Linked DNA regions of Homo sapiens: region 1 is linked to region 2. A link means that fine-mapping ties the variant in region 2 to the expression of a gene that starts in the linked region. Tissue or cell type: whole blood. Region 2 holds a variant in brackets; the other region holds the start of a gene. All regions are shown on one strand. Distances are from middle to middle.

The links. PIP is the estimated chance that this variant, and not a neighbour inherited with it, causes the effect.
Region 1: GNL3L starts here. The variant in region 2 is fine-mapped to the expression of GNL3L in whole blood (TOPMed, PIP 0.99).

Annotation. Positions count from the first base shown.
Region 1 is chrX:54,528,713-54,531,734 of GRCh38, reverse strand. GNL3L (G protein nucleolar 3 like) reads right to left here and starts at 1,516. Exons shown (of 16, transcript NM_001184819.2): 1 at 1,316-1,516. RefSeq lists enhancers at 1,111-1,370, 1,381-1,440, 1,891-1,940, 1,595-2,115.
Region 2 is chrX:54,558,718-54,561,312 of GRCh38, reverse strand. GNL3L (G protein nucleolar 3 like) reads right to left here. Exons shown (of 16, transcript NM_001184819.2): 16 at 1-793. The coding sequence ends at 711. Among named protein-coding and RNA genes, the nearest start is that of GNL3L, 30 kb to the right of the region's middle. The variant G/A (reference allele first, on the strand shown) is at 1,151.

The DNA of each region.
Region 1 (3,022 bases), 30 kb after region 2:
CACCCTGGAGAGGGCTGTGGTACAGGATCGATATGCCTGATTCCACAACTATGCAGCTTTGAATAAGCGGGTCTGCACCTTACCTGCAGTGAGCTATTCTGGACCCTTCTATGGAAGGTGGACTGTGACAACTTTCATCTTTTATGCTGGTTGAAGTCAGCGGCACACTAACACTGAAAGAAATAGGGGCTCTGGTTCTCTGCATGGGTGGTGTGTGGAGGGGGCTGGCAATGCAGCTATAAATTAATAGATCAGCCCTAATACTTGGGGGTGGGGGCGTCTGTGATTCTACCCTGGGTGGAGAGAAACAGATCTGAGCTCCACTACCTTGGGTAAAGGGGAGAGACCATACGCACTGAACTGCCAGGTAATCAGCGATGTCACTCCCTCTCAACATTACAGGGAGGGAGACCTGCATATCTGCTCCTGTGGGGTATCTCCCTTGCTACATTTAGTGATTCTAAATCTTTGGGGGAGGTAGGGGGAGGTAGGGGGATGATCTGTGTCTACCTCAAAGGGAGAGGAACACATCTGAGCCCCTCTACCCCCACGGCCCCTCAAGGGGCAGACCTGACTGTCTCTTCATGGATTAAGGTCTGTTCCTGTTTGCTTCGAAGCATGTTGGGTGCTTCGAAAAATTACACATTCGGTAAAACGGGGGCTACGGAAGTAGGGATCAGGTCTGATTCTCCACAATGGGGACTCACTCTAACCTAAGAGGAGGGGGCAATTGGCTTAGTTGTCCATAAGCTGAGGCCTGTAACTGCAACCACTTTGGGGACGGGTGAGTTGGGGAGCGATACTGAGGGCTCTGAGTCTACGCGTATGGGGAGGAGGTGCCCTCCCTCTGTATATTAAATGTTTCTAAGCTCCTCTATGCTGGTATGGGGGCAGATACATCAAAGCCTCTGTCTGTCCTGAGGAGGTGCCTCGAGACGGCTGTCTAGAGCCAAGCCAAGGAAGTGCCTTAAGTCGGGAGAAGTCTGCGCTGCTCAGCTGGGTGGAGGGAGATGTCTCTACACGGTTGGGGTGGATGTCCCCCATGCCTTTGGTGGGTCGACTCCTGTCTATACAAGGTGAATGCAGAATGAAGCCTCACTATCTTGAGGACGATCAACGCTTCACCACACAAGTGAAGTTTGTGCCTCTCTACACAGTGTGTCCCGGGTCTACACCTTTCTAGGTGGGATGGGGCAATGCCCCTCTCCCGGCAAACTCCACTCCGCGAAAAGGCAATTCGGCGCGTCTCCACGTGTGCCGCGATCCCTGCCCCTCTTCCGGTCCCTTCTACCCTGGAAGGGATCCTGCTGTTTACCTCTCTATTCCAGGTTGGCGGGCATCTCTGGTTTCACATCCAATAGACGATCCTAACTGCCCGGCCGTCTAGGTGAGCGCACATTGTGAGAAAAGAGGAGAGAAGTTTCTTACTTACACTTCCGGCGGGGATCTGAGAAGCGAGGGCAACACGACAACTCGGTTGAGCGAGCAGAAACTCTCGCGCAGCTAGGCTCCGACTTCCGGATCCCAGGCCGGCGGCGCCCGACTCCGCCCACCGTGCGGTCTCCGCGGGGGGGGGGGGGGGGGGGCGGAGCTTCTGACTGACAGCTCACGCCCGCCCGTCCCTTCTTCGCGACCACGCTGGCCCCGCCTCCTGCCTGCCCCGTAGTTAAGGAAATAGCGGAGGAGGGAGAAGGAGGACGGGGAAATGACCGGGAAGAAGCGGCGGGTCGACTGGTGCGGCCATATACCTTACTTGCAAGCCAAAATTTTGTCTGCGGGCATCTGTCTGGGGTTAAATATGCGTGCTCCCAAATCTCAATAACCAGGCAGTCACCACGCCCGAATCAGACAAGGGTGGGGGATGGTGTCTTTGTCTGCCTGGAAGATGGCGACAGCAGGGTGTGAGAAAATGGCCGCCTGGGTCACGTGTCTGGCCGAGTATTTCCCCACCTGAAGTGAATTGGTTAGCTATTCCCAACCACCTTCCCGGGTCCTTGAGCCCCAGACCATCCCTGAGCACTCCTAGCTTTTTCTGCATACGTTCAGATCTATGGCCATACCCAACCCGAGCTGGAGCAGGAGCCAGAACGACTAGAAGCCTCTCCCACACTAGAAGCCTCTCCCACCCTTTTGCCTTCTTCCCCTCCTACTCCATCCTTCCCTCAATCCCGGAGCAGCGTCTGCAGAAGGGAATGAATTTATATCTCTGGAGTGGGGCAAGTAGGGGTTTCTGAAGCCATCTCAAGGAGCTGGCTGGGAAGTGAGGTCTCCCCCACAAAATAGTAAATATTAGTCTGCAAATGTTTTCTTCTTGATGGTTTAATTCCAGCCCCTCCTCTTCCTCAAGCCTAAACCCTGGGGTGGGGCACAGAGTAGGTGGAACTCTGTGCCTCCGAGGGTGGGTTTGTTTCTCCACTTCAAGCACAGACGGGCTGAAAATGACTCCATCTGTCCCTTTATCCCTTACATAAACAGGACTCACTACCTCTCTACATCGTTGGAGGGCTTCTAACCTCTCATCCTAGAGACACATGAAATTCCTCTGGACCTGAAACCAGCCCTGACCACTTTCACCTTTCCCCCTGCATTTGCAATTTTGCTCTGTTTCTCTAAGACCTAACTCTTGTCACTTCGATGAAACCTTCTCTGACTTTCGCAGATGAGTTAGAAACCCAGAGCACCTTACCTATACAGCTAAGCTAGCACTTATCACAATACTGTAGTTGTTTATGTGACTGTGTCTCCACAGGAGGGTGAACTCCCTGAGAGCAGGGGCCATGTATCTTCAAGCTTTCAACAACACCCAGCACAAGACTGGTATGAGGCAGGCTTCAACAACTGTTTGTTAAATGGGTGAGTTTACAGGCCTGCACCACAAAAAATGGGAAATGGGCTGTTTAGTAGATGGCATTGGGAAATTTGGCTCTCCATGAAAAGAAATATAAAACTGGATCTCTATTTATTCCACCTAAGAGGGTAGACTGTGAATGTGAAAGGTAAAACTATGAAGTTAATATATGCA
Region 2 (2,595 bases):
AAACCATCACCCTCCCGCAGGGACCCCCAGGTCTACCAGCAACCTAACTTCTAGTGGCATATTCACCTGTCTAAGAGAGTTTTGTAGGCAGAGTTTTGTAGGTCAGCCCTCAACAGGTGTTAGCACCTGAGCTCTGCTGATACTTCTTTTATTTCTCTTGTAAAACAGAGTAGGGGTTAAATAGAGGGTATTGGGTTTGGCAGCTGCAGCCCCTTGGGATTTTTTTTTTTTTTTTTTTTTTGGGACGGAGTTTCGTGTTGTTGCCCAGGCTAGAGTGCAATGGTGCCGTCTGGGCTCACTGCAACCTCTGCCTCCCAGGTTCAGGCGATTCTCCTGCCTTAGTCTCCCAGGTTCAGGCGATTCTCCTGCCTCAGCCTCCCAAGTAGCTGGGATTATAGGTGCCACTAAGCACGGCTAAATTTTTTTGTATTTTTAGTAGAGACGGGGTTTCACCATGTTGGCCAGGCTGGTCTCGAACTCCTGACCTCAGGTGATCTGCCCACCTCGGCCTCCCAAAGTGCTGGGATTACAGACGTGAGCCACAGCACCTAGCCGGGACTGTTTTTACTGGAGGAGGGGGAGAAGACACACAGTGGGGAAAGCGTTCTTTCAATATGCAGATGCTTCAGGGAGAACCAAACTATTTCACTGGTATTCCCCCGTACCACCGGAACTGGTGCTTGGAGCGGAAGGGAAGTGAGATCAGTCGATTAGTCACCAACACCATCATCAGCATTGCCAGAGAGGTCGAGAGCAGACATCATGGAATCAGACAGCTTGCTGGCGATTTTATCTGCAAATGGAGAAATACAGGCAATCTTTTGGTGGCTGGCTTGCCACCAGGAGGCCTGCTGACGCTGGCCTACATCTACCTTGGTCTACACCAAGCTCCTGAACTGGCTCACTTACCCCCAAACGCTACCACAAAACTGGTGAGTGCTGGAAGCCACTGCTCAGCTTCACAGGTAGACAATCCATTTTTCTATCTGTGAAATGATCATCCCAACACAGCTTCTATCTCAGGGTTTCAGACTCACTGGGCTCCAAGTATTTTTGTCCAAATACCAAAGCAATAATTTTCTTTTACTATGTCAAACTTAGTGCTCTACCATTACCCTCAAAACAAAGCTCTCACAGCAAAGGGCAACAC[G/A]GCTGTATGTTCGCCATAAGCCTGAACGTTCACCACGCACACCTCCCATCCCCCAGACACACCCTGTTGTTCCTCAGGATGCCCCCCAGACTTCACCTCCTCCAGGAGGCCTTCTCTGATCACCCCTATCCAACCACCATCCCCAGGCTGGGTTAGGTTCCCTCACTGTGCTTGCTGGGTCTTCAACGTGATTACTATGTGCTCGTGCTGCCAAGGTCTGTTTTCTTGTCTCCTCCTCACTCCCTAATAAGACTAGGAGTTCAAAGGCAATTCATCTGAATTCCCAGGACTCAGTGTGGAGCCAGGCCAAGAGTGAATGTCTGATTGTGTATGTTTGGTTACAGAACACAATCTAGTTCAAAGAATAGGGCTGTTGGGGTCAATCAACCCAAAGTCTGTATTTTGGCTCCATCAACTACAAGTTGTCTTACCTTTAGCGTGTCACTTAATGTCTCTGGACCTCAGTTTTCTCACTTATCAAATAAGGGGAAGACTTTTGCAATGAGTTAGTGAAAAGTACAGCATGGAAACCCAAATGGGCCAGCTACACAATGTACCACCATTAAAACGAGGGGAAGAAGTTCTTTTGTGTATTAACATAGACATATCCCTAAGACATAGTGAGTGGAAAAATGATAGGGCAAAACCATGTGTCCAGTAGATTGGCATTTGTGTGGAAAAAGAGAACAAAGAATATATAGATATTTGCTTGTGTCTCAGAAAAGACACAATAAACTAACTGGCTGACGAGGGGGCGGTCTGGATGACTAGCGGGTGGGAGAGATTTTACTGTATATCCTCTTGTACGTGTAGGATTTTGAGTATATTGCCTATTGATATATAGCCTGCAAGCTACCTAACACATAGAGAGTACCTGATAAATAAATGGTCGTTATTTGATACATAGACTAGGCAGGCCAGTGGTTCTCCCAGTGTGATCCCCAGAGAAATAGCATCAGCTGGGAACCTGTTAGAAATACAAATTCTAACAGGCCCCACAGAAGACCTACTCAATTAGAAACTATGAGGGAGGGGCACAGAAATCTGTGTTTTAACAAACCCTCCAGGGAATCCTGATGCGAGCTGAAGTTTGAGAGCCACTGTGCTAGTAGTTGAGCCTCCTAGCTCATCCCTGCCCCCAACCCTAGACTGGAGCTGGACACAGAGAGATACTCATTCAGGAGCCCCAATCAAGATCCCAGGTGGGGCCACGTGCAGTGGCTCACATCTGTAATCCTAGCACTTTGGAAGGCCGAGGCAAGTGGATCACCTGAGGTCAGGAGTTTGAGACCAGCCTGGCCAACATGGCGAAACATCGTCTCTACTAAAAATACAAAAATGAGCCGGACATGGTGGCAGGTGCCTGTAATCCCAGCTACTCAGGAAGCTGAGGCAGGAGAATCGCTTGAACCCAGGGGGCGGAGACTGCAGTGAGCCAGAAAAAA